Linked DNA regions of Homo sapiens. The protein of the gene in region 6 purifies or fractionates together with the protein of the main gene of each other region. This does not show direct contact. Each region holds a gene or a part of one and is shown on either strand. Other genes may lie near its edges. The genes, in order: NUDCD3, TTC14, CCNE2, TFDP2, CABLES1, CDK10 and CCNT1.

What was found.
Region 1: the proteins of CDK10 (region 6) and NUDCD3 purify together in Homo sapiens (affinity purification with a luminescence readout; one large-scale study listed by IntAct). This does not show direct contact.
Region 2: the proteins of CDK10 (region 6) and TTC14 purify together in Homo sapiens (affinity purification with mass spectrometry; 2 studies listed by BioGRID and IntAct, with this or other methods). This does not show direct contact.
Region 3: the proteins of CDK10 (region 6) and CCNE2 purify together in Homo sapiens (affinity purification with mass spectrometry, with the first as the bait; one large-scale study listed by BioGRID). This does not show direct contact.
Region 4: the proteins of CDK10 (region 6) and TFDP2 purify together in Homo sapiens (affinity purification with mass spectrometry, with the first as the bait; one large-scale study listed by BioGRID). This does not show direct contact.
Region 5: the proteins of CDK10 (region 6) and CABLES1 purify together in Homo sapiens (affinity purification with mass spectrometry, with the first as the bait; one large-scale study listed by BioGRID). This does not show direct contact.
Region 7: the proteins of CDK10 (region 6) and CCNT1 purify together in Homo sapiens (affinity purification with mass spectrometry, with the first as the bait; one large-scale study listed by BioGRID). This does not show direct contact.

The regions. Positions count from the first base shown.
Region 1 is NC_000007.14:44,484,159-44,487,658, forward strand, and holds part of NUDCD3 (nudC domain-containing protein 3), read right to left. Parts: intron 1,127-3,500; coding exon 810-1,126; intron 1-809.
Region 2 is NC_000003.12:180,605,163-180,608,396, forward strand, and holds part of TTC14 (tetratricopeptide repeat protein 14), read left to right. Parts: intron 1-603; coding exon 604-675; intron 676-1,090; coding exon 1,091-1,210; intron 1,211-1,318; coding exon 1,319-1,441; intron 1,442-2,485; coding exon 2,486-2,603; coding exon of another isoform or gene 2,604-2,633; exon of another isoform or gene 2,634-3,234.
Region 3 is NC_000008.11:94,888,702-94,892,201, forward strand, and holds part of CCNE2 (G1/S-specific cyclin-E2), read right to left. Parts: intron 1,850-3,500; coding exon 1,714-1,849; intron 1-1,713. UniProt on the Homo sapiens protein: Essential for the control of the cell cycle at the late G1 and early S phase.
Region 4 is NC_000003.12:142,139,545-142,143,044, forward strand, and holds part of TFDP2 (transcription factor Dp-2), read right to left. Parts: intron 1-3,500. UniProt on the Homo sapiens protein: Can stimulate E2F-dependent transcription.
Region 5 is NC_000018.10:23,229,485-23,232,984, reverse strand, and holds part of CABLES1 (CDK5 and ABL1 enzyme substrate 1), read right to left. Parts: intron 1-3,500. UniProt on the Homo sapiens protein: Cyclin-dependent kinase binding protein.
Region 6 is NC_000016.10:89,689,689-89,693,188, forward strand, and holds part of CDK10 (cyclin-dependent kinase 10), read left to right. Parts: intron 1-864; coding exon 865-936; intron 937-1,754; coding exon 1,755-1,857; intron 1,858-2,117; coding exon 2,118-2,199; intron 2,200-2,760; coding exon 2,761-2,828; intron 2,829-3,500. UniProt on the Homo sapiens protein: Cyclin-dependent kinase that phosphorylates the transcription factor ETS2 (in vitro) and positively controls its proteasomal degradation (in cells).
Region 7 is NC_000012.12:48,703,208-48,706,707, reverse strand, and holds part of CCNT1 (cyclin-T1), read left to right. Parts: intron 1-811; coding exon 812-940; intron 941-3,500. UniProt on the Homo sapiens protein: Regulatory subunit of the cyclin-dependent kinase pair (CDK9/cyclin-T1) complex, also called positive transcription elongation factor B (P-TEFb), which facilitates the transition from abortive to productive elongation by phosphorylating the CTD (C-terminal domain) of the large subunit of RNA polymerase II (RNA Pol II).

The DNA.
Region 1 (3,500 bases), on a different chromosome or scaffold from region 6:
TTTCCAAAAAAACAAAGCAGGCCAGGAGGCTCGTGGCTGTCTTGCAGACACTACTACAACTCCCACACAAGAAGGGATCAGCTCCTCTCACTCAGACTGTAAGGAAGGACTGTATAACTAAGTTTAGAGCACCCACAAAACATAACTCCTAAAAAGTGAGTACAAGTACATAAAGCAAGAGGCTTGATTCAGGGAAACCTCATGTCATATTCAAGCTCTACTGCTCATTAGCTGCTTGACTATCGGCTCATTTAAAATTCACAACAGCTCTATGAGACAGGTACTATTATTATCACCTACATTTTATAGAGAAGAAAACTGAGACACAGAAAGGTTATACTGCTTGTTCAAGGTAATACATTCAGGAAGCGGCATAGCGAGGATGTGAATCCAGTCACCTAAAACAGACTGTCATTTCAGGTGTCCATTATACCTCAGGCATCATGAGCAAATCCTAGCAGTGCTCCTGCAGAGAGAAAAACACAAACAATCGAGCTGCTGAGGCTAAGCCTCTAAACACAGATAAAGTTAGGTCTTTGTGAGAGGAGTCAAGTGCTCTAATTTTGGCTCTGGATCTCAAATGGTTGTATGACTACTGACCTTACCAAATGAGGGAACTGACCTTAAGCCAACTGACCTCCCATCCTACATAACTGAAAGACTGTAATGCAGCAGTTTACAAACATGAAGAGCTAAATAAATACTGAGATCAAGAATTAATGTGTTACAAAGTAAGAATAAATTATGGAGAAACCCAAACACCAGATGTTACGCAAGAAAGAAGGAAGCTGCAAAGTAGAAATTCCCACCTGGGAAGAATTGGTGGTTCCCTAGGGACTTCAGCAGCACCAGCAACTGCTCCTGGAGCTTCTGCCTCCTGTGAACCATGGGCCATTTCCTTCACAGGGCCTGGAGGCTGCACTTTCTCTACTTCCTGATGCCCATCCAATTCTGTGGTGGAGTCAATCTCTATTTCCTGGACTGGAACTGGGACTGGCTCCTTCTCAGCTGCAGCAGCTGACACAGTCTTGGCCTCTTCCTCTTCCTTTCTTCTGATTTTCTCTTCAAGTTCCTGCCTTCTCTTCTCATCATCCTGACGGGCCATGTGGTCAAAGGTTTTGAATACCTAAAATCAAACACCAATCCAGCAATCAGTTCATCTGCCCAATACTGTACCACATATCTTGTAGAAATGTCGTAAAATCTGTGAAGGAGAGAACTAAAAGTCAGAAACTGACAAGTTTTCCCACTGGCAAAATGGAAATGCACTGCCACTTCACCAAAAGCTGACAGGTAAACAGTGTTTAACAGGAGGATTCCAAAATCAACAAAATCAGAAACTTATAAGCCAAGGCTAACAATATTTACATACCTAAAAGATGTACAGTTAGATGGTCTTTGTTGTCATTATTTTACAGACCCCAGTCTTGTTCACAATGCAAAGAATACACGGTCCTGGTACAACTGTGGGTTATAAAGGCACCAAAATTCAGACTCACAAATGAAACATGAAAATATGGCTGAACTTCAATTCCCAAAATGGAACCAGGTTTACAGGACTGCTGCTGTTTTTCACCACACTGCATGGACATTCAATTCAACAAACATCTACTATGCGCCTACAGTGTGCAAGAAACACGCACGCACAAAAAACATCAAAATGATTTCTGCTGCCTCCTAAGAACTCAAAATTCTGGTGTGTAAACAAGTTCTTAACATTTTCTGGGAAACAGTCACACCCATGAAGGTGCTGGGACCTCTCTACCAAAAAAGTACAGTCAAGACATACCCACACATGAAAACTCTGATACAAGAGGGGGCATGACAAGGCCCTCAATTCCCTGTCAGGGTATGGGTGGGAATGAGCATGTCTGGCGAAAGAAATCTAGGGAGACTTCTTGGAACAAGGAGGATCCCAGTTAGACCCTGAATGAGAGGCACATCTTCCACAGGGAACCACTGGAGGAAATGCCACAGCTCTAAGAATAGGCTTGTCAAGGAAGGGCAAAAGCTCTTGCAATAACTGGAGGAAGGAAAGGCTGAGACAGCAACCTGGGACATGGGTGGGAGTCAGATTCCAAAGGGCTAGAATGCGGACAGGTATTAAATAACAATGTTCTGTGCACTGCGCGGGCAGTCAAAAGGGTGCTAACAGACTAACTGTGTCAAATTATTTTACAAACATTCTCTCAAAACCCTCACAAAAATACTGTGAAGAAGACAGCATCAACATTTCAAAAATGAGAAAAAAATAAGGCTTGGAAAGGTTACGTAACTTGCCCCAGCTCCTGCTGGCAAAAGAAGTAAAAAACTACGCAGCACACACCAAACAGTGTGGGGAGATGATGATGTAGGCAGAGGGGAAAAAAAAAAATCAATAAAATCCTAAAAGGTTAAAAACTGGAAACAACACCAGAACCATTTTTACTTCTGCAGATAACCTGAAGCCCTGACTTCATTCTAACATTAGGGTCTCTACCGCTTTGAGTCCATGCTTTCAGAGTTGCTCATCCTGCTGATACTCCAGATCTTCATCTTAACTCCACAAAAGCAAAGCAACAAGATCTCTCTCTCCTAACACCTGAGACTTCGAACACAGAACCCCCAGACTTGATAGTCCTCACCATGCAGCTGCCTCTGCTCACTCAGTACATCCAGCCTTCTCTGACCTACCCATTCACACCACCAGGAAGTGCTACCACTGCCAACCTCCCAACTATCACATGTTCTCAGTACTCATTCTAGAGTCACAGAACATAGGGCTGGAAGAGAACTCTAATCTGTAACCTCCAATCAATCTTCTCAGCTGACAAGAGGTGAAGTGACTCTCCCAAGATTTCTCAACAATTTATGTAAGGAACAGGATGTAGCTAGCTTTCCTGATTCTAGTTTCAAGGACTTCTACAAAGGAGCACTTCTCAAAGTGGACTCCAAAAAAAACAGCATTATCGATTATAATGAATGGCTTGTCAGTCTAAACGATTTTTGTCTTAAAACATACTAATGTATTATAAAATGGAATGCAATTTTCACATACATCATTCCTGCTGAGGTTCTTCAAGCTGTGTATCCAGGCTATGCAAACTTTTAAAAGGAAACGTATGAGCTGCCTAACTCTACACCAACACTGTACTCCCCAAAATATTAAGGGAACGCTTTGAAGTTCCACAATGATGCAGCCCAGCACTCCCATCCAAATTCTTCTCTGCCTATATTCAGCAGAGACACCAAGCATCCCACATCTGGTGGGGGTGGAGAGGCAGACCCCAGGAAGGAGTCTTATGCCATCAAGTTAGGGACAGAAAAAAAAAAAAACCCTAAGAGGCAGATGAGTAGGAGTGGGGAGGTCAGGAGATCACCTACTACCACGAAGAAATAATGTTATGCTGGTACCAAGTCACTCAGTCTCATTCAGTGTTGTCCCACCCCACAATAAAACCCTTGTCAATACTGAAATCACCTTTACAAACCTCCTGTCAAATGAGCTTTTGTGGATAAAA
Region 2 (3,234 bases), on a different chromosome or scaffold from region 6:
GGACTGTCTTATCAGTGATTAATATGTGTACCATGTAACCAAGTAGAGAAGGATGCAGAAACTTTTTATAAGAATTTTGTGTGTATGCTAAAGAAAAATACTGGGTTTTTTTGTTTTTTGTTTTTGTTTTTTGAGTCGGAGTCTCACTGTGTCACCCAGGCTGGAGTGCAGTGGCGCTATCTCAGCTCACTGCAAGCTCTGCCCCTGGGTTCACGCCATTCTCCTGCCTCAGCCTCCCAAGTAGCTGGGACTACAGGTGCCCGCCACCACGCCTGGCTAATTTTTTTTTCTTTGATTTTTAGTAGAGTTGGGGTTTCACCGTGTTAGCCAGGATGGTCTCAATCTCCTGACCTCGTGATCCACCCGCCTCGACCTCCCAAAGTGTTGGGATTACAGGCGTGAGCCACCGCACCTGGCCAAGAAAAATACTGTTTAACAATAATAATCATTTCGAAAGTTCAAAGATTTTGGTATGTAAATAGAATGCAGATTTCTTGCTTGGGATTCATACTTTCACTGTCGAGTGCCTGTCAAGCAGAGTTAAGTATAGTTACTTAAAAAATATTTGTGGTTTAACTTTTTAATTTTTATTTTCTTTAATAGCAAAAATTTCTCTGAAGATGATTTTGCTTCTGCATTGAGAAAAAAACAATCCGCATCTTGGGCTTTAAAATGGTATGAAGACTGTCTTTCAACAATTGCATTATATCTAGTCTAAAAGCTTAGGGCAAGGCAAGCATGCTTATATCATCAATAAGACAAATTTGAGATGCATTAAAGTGATGCCTTTTTGACATGAGCTTTTCTTTTATAGATGTAAGTAGTCTTACATTTTACACTTAACAGATAAGTTTTACTCAGCATTTCAGTTTTCTCAAAAGGAATTAGTATATTGATATCTAGGTTTCACCAATATTTGTTGTGAAAATGTCCAAAGGCAGAAGAACGTTCCTTAGGTATATTGTGAGTACTCTGAAAACTAAATATTTTGCCAAGTTTGATGACATTTGCTTTTAAAACTTATTCACACTAACATTTTATTTAGATATTGTTTGAAGTGTTTGTGATGCTTTACAAATGTCTTTTTTAGTGTGAAGATCGGAGTTGACTATTTTAAAGTTGGACGCCATGTGGATGCTATGAATGAATACAATAAAGCTTTGGAAATAGACAAACAAAACGTGGAAGCTTTGGTAGCTCGTGGAGCATTGTAAGTGAATCATACATGGATTTTAAGGAATGTTTACCAGGTAAATGCGAACAAGATTTATGAAGAGCTTGTGAGATACAGCCCTCTATCTTTGTTTCATGTCTCTAGATATGCGACAAAAGGAAGTTTGAACAAAGCAATAGAAGATTTTGAGCTTGCATTAGAAAACTGTCCAACTCACAGAAATGCAAGAAAATACCTCTGCCAGACACTTGTAGAGAGAGGAGGACAGTAAGTATCAGATTTTGTTTAATAGTGGAGGTCTAATGTTCAACCAACCACTAAAAAATTTTGAACTTAAGGAAATAGTTTCTTAAGCACTTAATTTATAACACTCTTGGTTTCAATAAATAAATGGGAAAGTACAAGAGATTAGGCAAATACTCTTTTCCTAGATAATATACTCAAAAGTTTTTGGTTTAATGACTATACTATTTGTGTAGTCATTCCTGTTTGTGATCACAAATTCCAAGTTGATTAAATTTTGCAATATTCGTTTATAATTTATAGGAACTTCTATTTAATGATTGGAGCAGCTTTTTACATACTTACTAGGTGGATAACTAGTAACTACTTATATGTGGTTGTCTTATAGCCTTGTATTGATGTCTTTGAGCTGAGTGAATAGCAATACCCTGTAGTTACCTAAGCCAGAGATACTGTTCATCTTTGACTTGTCCTTTGTTTCCCATATCCAGTCTACTGACACAAAAGTGATCCCATTGTATTTGTTTTATAGTAATTTCTTTTTCCTTCTAAGAACCCAAAGCACTTTGCAACATCTTTTGACTGCTTTATGTCCAAACTTTCTCATTCTGGTGTTTCACAACCCAGACTTGTGAAATTCATCTAATGATTATGCTATTTACAGGCTCATTGTGATATATGTGTATGTTGGTATTTCCAAAGATTTCCAAAATTTTCTGTAGATAATTTTTCATAAACTACTAGGGAAAAAAGCCTGCTGGTATAATTCTGTGCTAAAATTCAAGATCATACTAAATTTGTGGACACCCATTTATCATGGGTTTTTGTGTATTACTGCAAAAATGTGCCAATATTGGACATATACCTTTAGTTACTAGTAAGATTTCTGTTTATGTGGTCTATGAAATAAATTACAGTAAAAAGCATATTATTTTGGTATTTTATTTTGGAAAATAATTTACTTGGCTTTTCCCTAATAAGCTCTCTCATATAAGCCTTTGACCTGTATGCATATTTGGATAGTTTTGTTGTTTTTACAAAAAAGCTAAATCTTTCTTTCAAATTTAGGTTAGAAGAAGAAGAAAAGTTTTTAAATGCTGAAAGTTACTATAAGAAAGCTTTGGCTTTGGATGAGACTTTTAAAGATGCAGAGGATGCTTTGCAGAAACTTCATAAATATATGCAGGTGATTCCTTATTTCCTCTTAGAAATTTAGTGATATTTGAAATAATGCCCAAACTTAATTTTCTCCTGAGGAAAACTATTCTACATTACTTAAGTAAGGCATTATGAAAAGTTTCTTTTTAGGTATAGTTTTTCCTAATTGGGTTTGACATTGCTTCATAGTGCCTCTGTTTTTGTCCATAATCGAAAGTAAAGATAGCTGTGAGAAAACTATTACCTAAATTTGGTATGTTGTTTTGAGAAATGTCCTTATAGGGAGCTCACCTGGTGGTTTTTAAATTATTGTTGCTACTATAATTGAGCTAATTATAAAAACCTTTTTGAGACATATTTTAAATTGTCTTTTCCTGTAATACTGATGATGATGTTTTCTCATGCATTTTCTTCTGAATTGGACCATTGCTGCTGTGTCTGTGACATCTGGTGCTGCTCATCCCCATCCACAAACTGGAAAATGATTTCCTATGTAATCATGCATCCAACTGGGCTGTGCTATTTTTTTAAATGGTTTGTATTTGAACATGGTGATTCCTCCTTCACTTCACCTTAACGGAATGTCTTTATTTGAATTTTATTTGTAAAATGTGTCCTGTTTAAATTTTTCAATCTTTAAAAATAATTTTTATGTACTT
Region 3 (3,500 bases), on a different chromosome or scaffold from region 6:
TTTTAGTAGAGATGGGATTTTGCCATGTTGGCCAGGCTGGTCTCAAACTCCTGGCTTCAACTGATCTGCCTGCCTCAGTCTCCCAAAGTGCTGGCATTACAGGTATGAGCCATCACACCTGGCCACATGAGTTTCTAATAATGAGTTAAGAAAATCTCTTTTGCTGGCCGAGTGCGGTGGCTCACATCTGTAATCCCAGCACTTTGGGAGGCCAAGGCGGGCGGATCACTTGAGGTCAGGAGTTCAAGACCAGCTTGGCCAATAGGGTGAAACCGCATCTCTATTAAAAATACAAAATATAGCAGGTGTGGTGGCCTGCGCCTGTAATCCCAGCTATGTGGGTGGCTGAGACAAGAGAGTCGCTTGAACGCGAGATGCAGAGGTTGCAGTGAGCTGAGATCGTGCCATTCCATTCTGGCCTGGGTGACAACAGCGAGGCTCCGTCTCAAAAAAAAAAAAAAGAATGTCGAATTTCAAAAAATGTCTTTTGCATCTATTGAGATCTTAGCATTTTTCTTATTTACTGTTAAGGTAATAAATTAATAGATTTTCAAATGTTGAATCAAGTTTGCATTCCTAGACTGAAGAATACACTAAGATAGAGTTTAACACTGCTGGATTTGATATATTCTGTATGCTGTTGCATACATAATCATATTTAGGTAAAAACAGGAACAAATTGAATTGGATAACCACTGGATGAATATCAGTATAACAAAAAGGAAACAAATTAAAAATTAACATAATTGTGCTTAAGTTGATTCCATGATCACTAGACAGTCAGAAAAAGTCAAAACCCAATGCCTTCTTGTGCCCACAATTAAAATACAATCTTTCCTTCTAGTCAGAATAAGGAAAAAGATGACCTGATGCAAAAGGATAACATTTTAGTCTTAAAAACTGTTCTGATAGCTTCTGAGATCTATTCTGCCATGTGTTCCTCCTCCAAAAAGTCTATGGTCTTTTTCCCTTAGAATGCTTCATCTCTTGTCTTAAAGACAGACTACAGAGCAAATATCCAAGAGTTGGAGGAAAAATCAGTTTGTCATCAACATAAGTAATGATTTCCTTAATAATAATTTTAGAAACTTTTTTAGAGCTATTATCCAGAGGAAAGGGAATGGACCTAAACAAGAGAGAAAAATCTGGCACAAATCTATAGGGGCTTCAGGATCACTATTCCTTTAAATTAATGGTATATTTCGGAAAAGAATAGAAGAATATAATAAAGAGAAGGTATCTGGACAATAGAGGGCGTAGAGCTTCCAGATATCCATAGTCTCATTATGGTTTAGGATATAGAAATCAGGATTCCTCATCATCATGATTTTGTTAATACAGAAAAAGACTTCAGAGGGCCCTGAAGCCTAGTTCTAGTTCTTCACTTTGTATAGCATAATTCAAAACCTAATCAACTATACATTCCATTCACCTTGAGTATCTGTGGCACCCAGAAAGTGGTTGGTACACAGCAGTATCCACAGGTAACAGGAATTCTGAATTGGGTTTAGTTATATGTAGTAGCTTTGTCATGGTTTTACTCTTATAGAGTCACTTTCCACTTTGGGTGCAATCAACTACAGTAAGTACCTCAAAAAAGACAGCTTCCTGGGGATGAACAATAAACTCTTGAGAGTACATAGAAAGCACATTTACAGCTAAATATGTTTCCATCATACAGAGACAAAGGAAATTTGTATTGCTGTAACATACCTCTAAAAGCCAGTCTAGAAGTATGGACCTCATCTGTGGTTCCAAGTCAGAATGCAGAACTTCAAAATGTTTGTCATGAACATATCTGCTCTCCTTTTTTAACATGTTTAGCCAGACTTCTTTTGAACATCCCCAGCTATGGAAAGAGAGGAAAAAAACCATATATATATATATATATTTTTTTTTTTTTTTTTTTGAGACAGAGTCTCGCTCTGTGGCCCAGGCTAGAGTGCAGCGGCACAATCTTGGCTCACTGTAATCTCCACCTCCTGGGTTCAAGCGATTCTTGTGCCTCAGCCTCCCAAGTAGCTGGGAGTTACAGGTGCCTGCCACCAAGCCTGGCTAGTTTTTGTATTTTTAGTAGAGATGGGGTTTCACCATGTTGGCTGGGCTAGTCTCGAACTCCTGGCCTCAAGTGATCGACCTGCCTCAGCCTCTCAAAGTGCTGGGATTACAGGCGTGACCCACCATGCCCGGCTAAAAAACATAATTTAAATTGTGCAATCCATGTAATATACAAACTCTGTTTCACATAGATAAAATTCAACTTTCAGACATTGAAATGCAACTTTTAATTAGAACTTGGAAGAAGCTCTTAAAGTAAATAAGAAAAAAAACTTCTGCCTTAATTTTTGGAAACAATTTCCTTTGCATGAATAAATAGAAGCCTGAAGTAACACAGTGGGAACCTGGACTATGATCATCCAAACCTGCAGATTTCAAGGGAGTGCTTTCTAGTTCCACTTATTTATACTTTACAAAGGTTGCTGTTAAAAGATAACCACGTTGCTTTTCCCATAAGTGGTCTGAAGTAATCTGTGAAAATAGCTGGCTATTCACTTTACCTGGAAAACCCCACAAAATCATGCAAATCAAGAGGTTCAAATCTTTGTGTTCACTGTAAGAACACTCGTGAAACTGCCCAGGCTATCAAGGGTATGCATATATGAAAAACCACAAAGTGGCCGGCACAGTGGCTCACACCTGTAATCCCTGCACTTTGGGAGGCCAAGGTGGGTGGATCACTTAAGGTCAGGAGTTCGAGACCAGCCTGGCCAACATGGTGAAACCCCGTCTCCACTAAAAATACAAAAAATTAGCTGGGCGTGGTGGCATGCTTGTAATCCCAGCTACTCAGGAGGCTGAGGCAGGAGAATCACTTGCACCCAGGAGGTGGAGGTTGCAGTGAGCCGAGATCGTGCCACTGCACTCCAGCCTGGGCAACAACAGCAAACCTCTGTCTCCAAAAAAAAAAAAAAAAAAAAACACCATGAAGTATTTTTAAAATGTCACTTTACAGAAACAGCATGTGCCATTCTGACATTACAATGGTGGAGTTGGTAGGTGTACCCAGGCCAAGCAGTGGGACTGGACACAAGGTTGGTGGCCCAAAAAGAGTGCTGAATTTTTGCTGCACATGCTTAAAAATGCAGAGAGTAATGCTGAACTTAAGAGTTTAGATGTAGATTCTCTGGTCATTGAGCATCTCCAAGTGAACAAAGCACCTACGATGTGCCAACGGACCTACAGAGCTCATGGTCGGATTAACTCACACGTGATCTCTCCCTGCCACATCGAAATGATCTTTAGTGAAAAGGAACAAATTGTTCCTAAACCAGAAGAGGCGGTTGCCCAGAAGAAAAAGATATCCCAGAAGAAACTGAAGAAACAAAAACTTATGGCACAGGAGTAAATTCAGCACTAAAATAAATGCAATTAAAAGTGAAAAAAAATGTTTTCTCAAGAGCAATACAAAAAAGTTAAACACATAAGGCATGTGATCACAG
Region 4 (3,500 bases), on a different chromosome or scaffold from region 6:
CTTGTAAGGCAGGCCTGGTGGTGAAAAAATCTCTCAGCATTTGTCTGTCTATAAAGGATTTTATTTCTCCTTCACTTATGAAGCTTAGTTTGGCTGGATATGAGATTCTGGGTTGAAAATTATTTTCTTTAAGAATGTTGAATAATGGCCCCCACTCTCTTCTGGCTTGTAGGGTTTCTGCCGAGAGATCCGCTGTTAGTCTGATGGGCTTCCCTTTTTGGGTAACCTGATGTTTCTCTCTGGCTGTCCTTAACACTTTTTCTTTCATTTCAACGTTGGTGAATCTGACAGTTATGTATCTTGGGGTTGCTCTTCTCAGGAGTATCTTTGTGGTGTTCTCTGTATTTCCTGAATTTCAATGTTGGCCTACCTTGCTAGGTTGGGGAAGTTCTCCTGGATAATACCCTGAAGAGTGTTTTCCAACTTGGTTCCATTGTCCCCGTCACTTTCAGGTACACCAATCAAACACAGATTTGGTCTTTTCACATAGTCCCATATTTCCTGGAGGCTTTGTTCATTTCTTTTTACTCTTTTTTCGCTAAACTTGTCTTCTCGCTTTATTTCATTAATTTGATCTTTAATCACTGATATCCTTTCTTCCACTTGATCAAATCGGCCTTTGAAGCTTGTGCATGCCTCACGAAGTTCTCATGCCATGGTTTTCAGCTCCATCAGGTCATTTAAGGTCTCCTCTACACTGTTTATTCTAGTTAGCCATAACCTTTTTTCAAGGTTTTTAGCTTCCTTGCGATGGGTTAGAACATGCTTCTTTAGCTCAGAGAAGTTTGTTATTACCAACCTTCTGAAGCCTGCTTCTGTCAACTCATCAAAGTCATTCTCCGTCCAGCTTTATGCCGTTGCTGACGAGGAGCTGCAATCCTTTGGAGGAGAAGAGGCACTCTGGTTTTTAGAATTCTCAGCTTTTCTGCTCTGGTTTCTCCCCATCTTTGTGGTTTTATCTACCTTTGGTCTTTGATGTTGGTGACCTACAGATGGGGTTTTGGTGTGGATGTCCTTTTTGTTGATGTTGATGCTATTCCTTTCTGTTTGTTAGTTTTCCTTCTAACAGTCAGGTCCTTCAGCTGCAGGTCTGTTGGAGTTTGCTGGAGGTCCACTCCAGACCCCGTTTGCCTGGGTATCAGCAGCAGAGGCTGCAGAACAGCAAATATTTCAGAACAGCAATTATTGCTGCCTGATCCTTCCTCTGGAAGCTTCGTCCCAGGGGGGCACCCACCTGTATGAGGTGTCTGTCGCCCCCTACTGGGAGGTGTCTCCCAGTTAGGCTACACGGGTGTCAGGGACCCCTTGAGGAGGCTGACTGTCCATTCTCAGAGCTCAAACACCATGCTGGGAGAACCACTGCTGTCAGAGATGTTTAAGTCTGCAGAAGTTTCTGCTGCCTTTTGTTCTGCTATGCCCTGCCCACAGAGGTGGAGTCTATAGAGGCAGTAGGCCTTGCTGAGCTGAGGTAGGCTCCGCCCAGTTTGAGCTTCCTGGCCGCTTTGTTTACCTACTCAAGCCTCAGCAATGGCGGACACCCCTCCCCCAACCCGGCTGCAGCCTCACAGGTCCATCTCAGACTACTTCGCTAGCAGTGAGCAAGGCTCCACGGATGTGGGGCCCGCCAAGCCAGGCACGGGAGAGAATCTCCTGGTCTGCCAGTTGCTAAGACCATGGGGAAAGTCCAGTATTTGGACGAGAGCGTCCCATTTTTCCAGGTACAGTCTGTCACGGCTTCCCTTGACTAGGAAAGGGAAATCTTCTGATCCCTTGTGCTTCCTGGGTGAAGTGACGCCCTTCCCTGCTTCGGCTCACCCTCTGTGGGCTGCACCCACGGTCCAACCAGTCCCAATGAGATGAACCAGGTACCTCAGTTGGAAATGCAGAAATCACCCATCTTCTGCATCAATCACGCTGGGAGCTGCAGACTGGAGCTGTTCCTATTCGGCCATCTTGAACGAAGATCTATTTAATTTCTTTTAAAGTCAAAAGAACATAGGCCAGGTGTGGTGGGTTAAGTTTGTAATCCAGCACTTTGGGAGGCTGAGGCAGCAGATCAGTTGAGGCCAGGAGTTCAAGACTAGCCTGGCTAACATGGCAAAACCCTGTCTCTATTAAAAATACAAATATTAGCCAGGCATGGTGGCACATACCTGTTATCCCAGCTACTTGGGAGGCTGAGGCACAAGAATCACTTGAACCCGGGAGTCGGAGGTTGCAGTGAGCCGATATCATGCCACTGCACTCCAGCCTGGGTGACAGAGCAAGACTCTGTCTCAAGAAAAAAAAAAAGTCAAAAGAGCATGAAATATGTTGCAAAAGGACATATAGGTCTTAAATAAAATATTTATGTTGCAAAGAAGTTAAGATACTCAAAAAACTGGGGATAGAAGGAACACACCCCAACATAATAAAAGCCATATATGACAGACCCACAGCTAGTATCATACTGAATGGGGAAAAACTAGAAAGCCTTTCCTCAAAGATCTGAAACATGACAAGCATGCCCACTGTCACTACTGTTATTCAACAAAGTACTGGAAGTCCTATCTAGAGCAATCAGACAACAGAAAGATATAAAGGGCACCCAAATTGGAAAGGAAGAAGTCAAATTATCCCTGTTTGCAGATGATGCAATTTTATATTTGGAAAAACCTAAAGACTCCACAAGAAAAGTATTATTAATAGAAGTGATAAACAAATTCAGTAAAGTTACATGATACAAAATCAACATACAAAAATCAGTAGCATTTCCATATGCCAACAGTGAACAATGTGAAAAAGAAATTTTAAAAGTAACTCCATTTACAACAGCCACACATAAAATTGAATAACTAGGTAATAACCAAAGAAGTGAAAGATCTCTGTAATGAAAACTATAAAACACTGATCAAAGAAATTGAAGAGGACACCAAAAAAATGGAAAAATATTCCATGTTCATGGATTGAAAGAATCAATATTGTTAAAATGTCAATACTGCTATCAAAGCAATCTACAGATTCAAGGCAATCCCTATCAAAATGGCAATGACATGCTTCACAGAAATAGAAAAAACCATCCTAAGATTTATATGGAACCACAAAAGACCCAGAATAGCCAAAGCTATCTTGAGCAAAAAGAACAAAACTGGAGGAATCACATTACCTGACTTCAATTATACTACAGAGCTATAGTAACCAAAACAGCATGGGACTGGAATAAAAACAGACACACAGACCAATGGACAGAACAGAGAATCCAGAAACAAATCCACACACCTACAGTTAACTCATTTTCCACAAAGATGCCAAGAACACACACTGGGGAAAAGACAGTCTCTTCAATAGATGGTGCTGGGAAAACTGGATATGCAAATGCAGAAGAAAAAAACCAGACCCATATCACTTGCCATACACAAAAATCAAATCAGCCTGGGCAAGGTGGCTCACGCCTGTAATCCCAGCACTTTGGGAGGCCAAGGCGAGCAGATCACTTGAGGTCAGGAGTTCAAGACCAGTCT
Region 5 (3,500 bases), on a different chromosome or scaffold from region 6:
GCAAATTGCTCCCAGCCAAAGACAAAGTCATCAGGTAAGAAGAGAGGAGGGAGCCAAGCGAGTGGTGAGAAGAGAAGGGAAAAAAGCTATCCTCCAATATAGAAAAAAAAACAGGGATGCTCTGATTCTGTTGAGCCATCATCCTAGTCTCTGGGCATTACATGAATGAGCCGGCTCCCTTATCCTACCCATAATGTGGAGTCTAATTAACAGAAATGCCCAAGACCTTCTGTGCCCAGTAAGTGCTGCATTTCCACAGCAGGCTTCCTGGGAGGCCATGGTAGTGCCACCCTCAAAACATCTCTGGAGTCCCGTTCAGAATCGACACCAAAGTCATGCAGAAGAAAGCCAACAACCAACTCTGTTCACACCCACAAGACCGTCTGCCCTACTGCTGCAGCTGCTATGCAGGCACCCCAGGGCGATTCTCAAAAGGCTTCTTAAAGCAATTAAGGATGGAGATGATGAATGCACAGGGGCACTGGCATAGGGAAGTGCCTACAAAGCAAAAACGTGAACAAGGCAATGAAGCAAAAATACCTGCGGTGGGCAGGGAGGGAGGGGACTGACCACATGCAGAGCAGGACAAAAACAGCAGTGTCTTCCTTTTCATTCAAGGACCAGCAGCTCAGTTCCATGGGCTTCCTACTTTTCCAAAGCCAAAGCCAGCAAGCATGGTCTTCAAATTCCCAACTCCCAAATAATTTTCTCCTTGTTTCCATTTTGCCAGATGGAGAATGTTACTTAGGGCTGAAATTAAGAGAGAAGTAGGGAATATCTTTTTGGAGTGAGTAGGCCAAGGGAAATAAGGAGAATTCCAATAAGCCCATACTGAGAGGGTTCTCAGATGGAGAGCTGGCTGCAGGCAGGGGCAGTCTCAGTCCATTTTCATATCCTGTCTATACAACGTCTGATATGTAACGAACTATTTACTGAGCTGAGCTAGTGTGGCTCTTTGCTGTCTCGCCGGTACTGGTACATGCAGATGGCATGAAACTTGGGTGATTTTCCACTGTGCCCCTTTTCATCTGTCTTCAATTTGCTCACAGGCTCACTGCTTCCCCGGGGCAGCCTTGTCCTGGCCAGCTGTCTGCCTGCCGCCAAATGTGCACATCACACATCACAGTTAACAGAACCAAACCAGTCGCGCCTCTTCCACACTCCCCTTCTTGGCATTTCCTCCAAAGGAAATGAAGCCCTAACAAAAAAAAAATATAGTCATGTGCTCGTATAAAGTCCAAGATTCTATTCCATGAGATAAAACCCAAACCCATTTAAAGAAACAGGGATTCTTAGAAACAGGGATTCCAGTGGATTGTCCAAGCGTCTCAGCGACACTTGGGACCACAAGAAAGACGGGCAAGGCTCCACCAACCCTACCCACAGAACTGGTCCCTCGAGAAATAACGTGACTCACTGCAGTCACCACTTCCCCCTGGCTTTCTACTTACGTCATTCTACTTTCTAAATTGCTAAGGCTAAGCCGAGTAAGAAAATAAGCAAGAATAGTGGGGCCACCCTCAACTGCTACTGGAGACACGTGAGGCTTGTTACAGACCAGTGCCACGCAACAGAACTTCCTGTGATGACGGAGATGGTCCTTATCTACCGTGTTCCATACGATGGTTACGTGTGGCAACTAAGTGCTTGAAATGTGAACAGTTGACTGAGAAACTGAATTTTTATTTAATTTTAATTAATTTAAATGTAAATTGCCACATGTGGCTAGTGACTACTAAGACCCAGTGCTTCCTTGGCAGGACTTTTGCTACCCTTATTTTATAAGTTCCTATGGCAAGATAATATAGTCATAGATACTCAGTGACATGGATTTGGTCTCCCAGTTTTCTTCCCAAGAGTGGCCTATTTTCTGCCTATTGCCTCTGGGGATGTTTAAATTACAGGCCACTGCAGAGGGAGCAGCAGTGCAAGATTCTCCTAAGTCGGAAGGGAAATGACCATGGGGTCCATGATCAAATGGGACCCATGCCTTGCACCATCAGCACCCCAAGAACAGGGCTCCCAGCCATGATAAAGATTCGTAATTCACATCTGGCACAGAGCAGCAGATCTTTTTGCCTGGAGGGGTCACGGGGCGGGTGTGACAGTTTTGGCAGTGCTAGGGCAACCAAAGGAACAACAACCAGCATGTGTTCCCCAAATCCTAGGCATTACAGTAGGTTCCAGGCCCTTCTTTGCACAATACTGGAGATGGGGAGGGAGGAATGCCCAGTGAAAAGTGAGTCTCAATTTCCCCTCAGCCTTGTAGAAGGGGGGTTTACAGTTCATATTAAGTAGATTTAAAAAGAAGAAATGAGGTATTTCTTGTACGCCAAAGCTAGTCACACTTCAAAACTTCGCTGATACAGTAATAAATATCATCTCAGCTCTAGAACACTGACAGCTTCGTGATGGCAGAGGGCAACTTTTCCACGCTTTTCCTCCCTCAGATTCAGGGAGAGGTTATCACTAACTTCAGGGCTACCATTTTGCTGGCCTGGAATTAAGAGCATACACGTACAGGCGTGGGCATAGTCAGCCGTCCACAGAAAACAAAACAGATCTCATTTCTAACAATGTCAGTTTCTTATAGGTTTTTTTTGTTTTTGTTTTGAGATGGAGTCTTGCTCTGTCACCCAGGCTGGAGTGCAGTGGTGCGATCTCAGCTCACTGCAAGCTCCGCCTCCTGGGTTCATGCCATTCTCCTGCCTCAGCCTCCCGAGTAGCTGGGACTACAGGCGCCTGCCGCCATGCCCGGCTAATTTTTTGTATTTTTAGTAGAGACAGGGTTTCACCATATTAGCCAGGATGGTCTCGATCTCCTGACCTTGTGATCCGCCCGCCTGGCCTCCCAAAGTGCTGGGATTACAGGTGTGAGCCACCGCGCCTGGCCCTTCTCATAGCTTTTTAATTTGTATATGTTAAGACTCTTGGGATCTAAAAAATACATCTTTCACAAAGAGGCTGACAAACTTTTCCGGGTTCATTCTTCTTAGGTAAGGGCTCTGATCAATGTTGCTGGAATCTTTCTGATATTAACATGAAACATGAAATTGCTGTTCTTTGGTCGTACTTGACCCCCATAAACAGCAGTTTCACATTGTGCCACATAGCTTAACAGCTCAGGCAACTGCTCAGTCTTTATGTGTGAGTGAAAAGCAGGCAAGACCCATGGTCTTTGCTGTCCCTCTCTTTTGGAAGCCTAGAACGTTGGAGTTGCATGCAGAAAGGAACTCTGAATGGTGGAGATTCGCTCCAAAAGAATCTTTTAAAAACTCCAGTGAGAAAGAATGAAGCAGAAGTCCCAGTGGAGTGTGATGAAATCTTGGTATTTTCTAAGATCATTGTTCTGAATTCTCATTAAAATGGTATATTAAAAATAGAAATATCTGTTTGGCTGAAATGCCAGCACTAACTCTCCAGCACCAGGAAATAGAGCTAGAGAATGTCGAACTGCAGCTGAAAGTAATTAAAAGCAAACTGAAGTTGAAGTTTTCACT
Region 6 (3,500 bases):
TTTTGTTTGTTTTTGAGATGGGTCTTGCTCTATTGCCCAGACTGGAGTGCAGTGGCATGATCATAGCTCACTGCGGCCTCGACCTCCTAGGCTCAAGTGATCCTCCCACCTCAGCCTCCTGAGTATCTGGGACCACAAGAGTACATAAGCACACCCAGCTAATTTTTAAATTTTTGGTAGAGATGGGATCTCCCTATGTTGCCCAGGCTGGTCTTGAACTTCTGGGCTCAAATGATCCTCCTGCCTCGGCCTCCCAAAGCACTGGGATTACAGGTGTGAGCCACTGCACCCGGCCAAGCCTAGGAGTTTGAGGCTGCAGTGAGCTGTGATCACGCCACTGCACCCCAGCCTTGGCAACAGAGTGAGACCCTGTCTCAAAAAAACCAAAAACACCACACACAACTAAAGGTTATAACAGATGTGAAATTGGCGTAGGTCATTCTGGAAGCTGCACACATTAGCAGGATGTTTTGTAGAGCCATCTTCACACAAAATAAGGTTTGCTTTTTTCTGCATAGAGTACCTTATTTGCTTTTAGGACATTACAAGAGAGCACAAAGCAGTGATCTGCATGCTAAGGAGGACATGGAGAGCCTGGAGCCACAGAACTGAGTGGCTGGAGGCCAGGGTCCAGCACAGAGCAAAGTTGGGCACCCCCTGCCCAGTTCAAATGAGGAAACCCTCCGGGGGAACGCGTCTCGGGCTAGGGGCGTTGCACAGAGTGGGGACTGAGTGTCACTGGGCATGAGGTTGTCAGAGGAAAGAACGGGGACCCCTGTGGCTCAGGGAGAGCCTCCCGTTCAGCGCTAGGGAGCCCACGAGGGGCATCGAGATGATGTCATCACCAATGTGTTTCCATTCCAGATCGGGCCCGGGACACCCAGACAGATGAGATTGTCGCACTGAAGAAGGTGCGGATGGACAAGGAGAAGGATGGTGAGCAGGAAATTGGGGTGTTGGGACCTCGCACTGGGAGGAGGCAGAAGGATGTGAGTTACCTGAAGTTTCCTCAGAGCGACTGCACGGTGCTTGTAGCGGGGGCCGGCCTCTGGGAGGGTTCTGGTGTGGCCCAGCACATCACCCCCAGGTCCACACGCAGCCTCAGCTGTCTGCCAGGAGGGCTCTGCAGTCTCCATCCCCTCCTCCCCCTCCTGTCTGGTGAGGCCACCTCACTGCAGGCTCAGCTCTGCTGTCCCCTCCACCCCCAGCACCTGCCTGTGCAGGCAGGGCCCTGCCATGCCCCACATAGATGTCCACGGTGTTTAGAGAGGTGCCGATTCGTATTTGGTCAAGGAAGAGTTAAAAGTGCTTATTGGGCCGGGCATGGTGGCTCATGCCTGTAATCCCAGCACTTTGGGAGGCCGAGGCAGGCGGATCACCTGAGGTCGGCAGTTCAAGACCAGCCTGACCAACATGGAGAAACCCCATCTCTACTAAAAATACAAAATTAGCCAGGCGTGGTGGCACATGCCTGTAATCCCAGCTACTAGGGAGGCTGAGGCAGGAGAATTGCTTGAACCCGGGAGGCAGAGGTTGCGGTGAGCCGAGATGGTGCCATTGCACTCCAGCCTGGGCAACGAGCGAAACTCCGTCTCAAAAAAAAAAAAATGCTTATTGGGGTCGCCCCAATTCTCCCTGAGGTGGGGACACTGCAGCACCTGCTATCAGGTGTTCGTGAAGCCCAAGAGTGGCTGGGGTTGGGGCTTCCCCGCCATCACTGGGGTGGGGCTCGCTGAGGCCACCTCCCTCCCCAGGCATCCCCATCAGCAGCTTGCGGGAGATCACGCTGCTGCTCCGCCTGCGTCATCCGAACATCGTGGAGCTGAAGGAGGTGGTTGTGGGGAACCACCTGGAGAGGTACGTGGTCTCCTGGTCTGCACATTGGGCCCTAGGGAGCATGTGTCTTGGGCTAGAGGTGTTGCACAGAGCGAGGACTGAGTGTCACTGGGCATGAGGTTGTCAGAGAAGAGATGACCCCACCTCACCGCCTGGCTCAGCCCATTGTCTGAGGGGGACACAGGTTGTCCTGCCCATGTCCCCTCCTGCAGCAGGGGAGGCTCCACTTCCACCCCTTAGGAGAAGGCCGGAGAGTGGCATGCATCTTCTGTTTCTTCCAGCATCTTCCTGGTGATGGGTTACTGTGAGCAGGACCTGGCCAGCCTCCTGGAGAATATGCCAACACCCTTCTCGGAGGCTCAGGTGCGTGGCAGAGGGGCCTGGGGTGGGGGAATGGGCTTCATGGGCCCTTGTGGTGCACATTTATAACGAAACAGGGCACTTGGGGACTTGAAGAGCTGCTGCTGCCTCTGCCTCCACCTCCCAGTGTTTCAGCGAGCTTCAGTGAGGTGGAATTCCTGTGGTGGGGGCATCTGCTGGGAGCGGGCAGCCCCAGGGCCGAGAGCCTTATGAGGGCACTGGTTTCCTGGGCTGTTGGGAGCAGGCAGCCCCGGGGCTGAGAGCCTTCTGAGGGCACTGGTTTCCTGGGCTGCTGGGAGCGGGGAGCCCTGGGCGGAGAGCCTTCTGAGGGCACTGGTTTTCTGGGCTGCTGGGAGAGTGCAGCCCCGGGGCCAAGAGCCTTGTGAGGGCACTGGTTTCCTGGGCTGCTGGGAGCGTGCAGCCCCGGGGCCGAGAGCCTTCTGAGGGCACTGGTTTCCTGGGCTATTGGGACTGCTAGTCCTGCTGGCCAGTGTGGGTGTGGCAGGGCCCAGCTGGGCTTCCCTGCAGGCTCACCCTGACTGGTACCTCTGACCCTCTGCACAGGTCAAGTGCATCGTGCTGCAGGTGCTCCGGGGCCTCCAGTATCTGCACAGGAACTTCATTATCCACAGGTGGGTGACAGCTAGGCAGAGTTGGAAGCACAAATTCGGCTGAGGCCTAACTCTGCTGCCCCTGTGGAGTTACTAAAAGCTCAGGGGTTCCCAGCTGCAGCAGCCTGCCCGCTGCTCGCACTCCATTTGTGTTTTTTTCTAAAATAGAGAAGGGGTCTCTCTGTGTTGCCCAGGCTGGTCTCACACACTTGGGCTCAAGTGATCCACCCACCTTGGCCTCCCAAAGTGCTGGGATTACAGGTGGGAGCCACCACACCCAGGCATGCACTCCGATTTTTAAAAGGTCCAAACATCAACAGCATGTAAGAGTTAATGAAAAAAAAAATAATAAAGATACTACGCCGGGCACAGTGGCTCACGCCTGTGATCCCAGCACTTTGGGAGGCCGAGGCAGGCGGATCACGAGGTCAGGAGATCGAGACCATCCTTGTTAACACAGTGAAACCCCATCTCTACTAAAAATACAAAAAAATTAGCCGGGCGTGGTGGCGGGCGCCTGTAGTCCCAGCTACTTGGGAGGCCGAGGCAGGAGAATGGCGTGAACCCGGGAGGCGGAGCTTGCAGTGAGCCGGGATTGCTCCACTGCACTCCAGCCTGGGCGACAGAGTGAGACTCTGTCTCAAAAAAAAAAAAAAAAGATACTAAAAAGCCCAAAGCTGAGGAAACGTGCAG
Region 7 (3,500 bases), on a different chromosome or scaffold from region 6:
GAAATACAGCTCTTAGCATTACTATCTTTGAGTCACTGAAATGTTCTTAATATTCAAGAAAAGTTCTATTTCCTGAAGTTTCCAAGATCACCAGGCTACATTTATGTCATATTGCTTTAATCTTTTATAAAGTTTGTTATCTACTTTTATATTGACTTCAATTTTTCCCTCTTAATGCTTTCTATAAATAATGTCTTGCATATAATGCCATGCTTTGTATTTTTGAAAGGTTCGATATGTATAAGTAATTGAGATATAATTCACGTACAATGAAATTCGTTTGTTTAAATTATATAGTTCACTGGTTTTTAGTATATGCGCAAAATTGTGCAACCATCAGCACAGTCTAATTGCAGAACATTTACATCACCCCAGAAAACTCCTCACCTATTAGCAGTTATTCCTATACTCCTCTCCCCGCAGCTCCTGGCAACCACTAAACTTTTTCTCTATATGGATTTGCGTATTCTGGACATTTCAGTTTACTCCTTAAAAAATGTATTGAGTGATTTGATACAAACTTAATAAAGAATCTCACTTTAAATAGAAAACTGTCTGCTTACATCTAGTAGCTTCTCCCATAGACAGCTTTTAATGACAGTTTGTCAAAGAATTGGTATTTGGAAGTGGAGATGGATTAATGGGTAGGAGAGGGGAAGATGGTAGAAGCGGGGGGGCGGGAAAGGGTAAAGAGGTGACAAAGTTGAGGCAAGCAAATAACTTGATTTGAGACTTAGCTCCTCTTTAGATCTACCTTACTCTATGAATGAATAAATTGATAATAAATATGATTTATTTTCTCTCCATTCAGTCTGTGGCTCCAGCAGCCTTGTTTCTAGCAGCTAAAGTGGAGGAGCAGCCCAAAAAATTGGAACATGTCATCAAGGTAGCACATACTTGTCTCCATCCTCAGGAATCCCTTCCTGATACTAGAAGTGAGGTAGGAGATTAATTACACATCTGTTTTTCTTAATTTTTTTCCTTTCTTTTTTTTTCCCTACTCCCAAGCATGCCTGGATCTTTATGTATTTCAATGCAACTTAATTTTATAACTTCGATTTATTGAAGTTTAGATTGGTGTTGTTAAAAGAATATTTTAGTGTTTGTGTTTTTCTTAACAGTAAGAAAATCAGGCCAGGTATGGTGGCTCACCATACCTGTAATCCTAGCACTTTGGGAGGGTAAGGTGGGAGAATCACTTTAGGCCAGAAGTTTAAGACCAACCTGGACAACATAGCAAGACCCTGTCTCTATATTTAAAAAAAAGAAAAAAAAAAGCCAGATGTGGTGGCTCATGCCTGTAATCCCAGCACTTTGGGAGGCTGAGGCAGGAGAATTGCTTGAGTCCAGTTCGAGACAAGCTCTGGCAACAAAGTGAGACCCCATTTCTACAAAAAAAGAAAAACAACAACAACAACAACAACAAAAAACAACTGGGCATGCTGGCTCACATCTTTAGTCCCAGCTACTTGGGAGACTGAGGTGGGAGGGTTGCTTGAGCATGGGATGTTGAGGCTGCAGTGAGCCATGATCACACCACTGCAGGCAACAGTGCCAGGACTCTGTCTGAAAAACAAAACACATAAATTTTATGGCGAAAGTTTTGTATTTGTTGCAGTAAAATTTGAAAATACAGAAAAATTCAAGAATAAAATATCTCTCAGATATATTCTAGACCAATGGTCCCAGACCTTTTTTGGCACCTGGGACTGGTTTCATGGGAGACAGTTTTTACATGGACAGGGGGTGGGGTTGGAGATGGTTTTGGGATGATTCAAGCACATTACATTTATTGTTCACTTTATTTCTATTATTGTTACATTGTTATACATAATGAAATAATTACGTAACTCACCATAACGTAGAATCAGTGGGAGCCCTGAGCATCTCTTTTTTTTTGAGACGGAATCTTGCTCTTGTCGCCAGGCTGGAGTGCAGTGGCGCAATCTCGGCTCACTGCAACCTCCACCTGCCGGTTTCAAGCGATTCTCCTGCCTCAGCCTCCTAAGTAGCTGGGACTACAGGTGTGCACCACCACACACAGCTAATTTTTGTATTTTTAGCAGAGACAGGGTTTCACCATGTTAGCCAGAATGGTCTCGATCTCTTGACCTTGTGATCTGCCCGCCTTGGCCTCCCACAGTGGTGGGATTACAGGCATGAGCCACTGTGCCCGGCCACCTTGAGGTGCTTTTCCTGCAACTAGATGGTCCCATCTGGGGGTGATGGGAGACAGTGACAGATCATCAGGCATTAGATTCTCATAAAGAGCAGCAAATTAGATCCCTTGCATGGGCAGTTCACCACAGGGTTCAAGTGCTCCTATAAGAATCTAATGCCACTGCTGATCAGACAAGAGGCAGTGCTCAGGTGGCAATATGTATGGTGGGGAGAGGCTATAAATACAGATGAAGCTTCACTCACTCGTACCTGCTGCTCAACTCCTGCTGTGTGGCCTAGTTCATAACAGGCCATGGACCCCCTGTTATATAGACAACTGAAGCACAGGTATACTAATGAACCACTGTTATTTGTGGCTTCTTTTCTATAGATAGCTATGTGTGCATGTATTTTGTCTCTGGTTTGTTTTCATTTGCTTACTATATCCCAAATATTTTCCCATCTGATGGATTCTCTACTTTTTAAAAATGTCTGGCTAGTATTTAATGATATATATGTGAATGTATGTATTTTTAACAATTCTCCATGAAGAAGTCTAGATAATTTCTAGCTTTTAAAATCACTATAAATGTTATGAAAAATATTCTTTTTTTTTTTTTTGGAGACAGGGTCTCATTCTGTTGCCCTGGCTGGAGTCCAGTAGTGTGATCATGGCTCACCGCGGCCTTGACCTTCCGGGCTCAGTGATCCCCCTGACCTCAGCATCCCGAGTAGCTGGGACTATAGGTGTGCGCCACCATGCCCAGCTAGTTTTTGTAGAGATGGGGTTTCACCATGTTGCCCAGGCTGCTCTCGACCTCCTGAGCTCAAGTAATTCGCCCACCTTGGCCTCCCAAGTGCTGGGATTACAGGCGTGAGCCACTGCACCTGGCTGAAAAATATTATTATACATTTTTATTATGGATCCTTAAATGAGTAGTTTCACTATTTTTTTTTTTTTTAACTTTTTTTTCGAGTTGGAGTTTTGCTCTTGTTGCCCAGGATTGAGTGCAATGGTGCAATCTCAGCCAACCGCAACCTCCCCCTCCTGGGTTCAAGCGATTTGCCTGCCTCAGCCTCCCGAGTAGCTGGGATTACAGGCATGTGCCACTACACCCGGCTAATTTTGTATTTTTAGTTGAAACGGGGTTTCTCCATGTTGGTCAGGCTGGTCTCGAACTCCTGACCTGAGGTTATCCACCTGCCTCAGCCTCCCAAAGTGCTGGGATTATAGGCGTGAGCCACCATGTCCAGCCAGCTTTGTTTTTTTTGAGACAGAATCTCGTTTTGTTGCCCAGGATAGAGTGCAGTGGCAAGATTGTAGCCAGGATGGTCTCGAT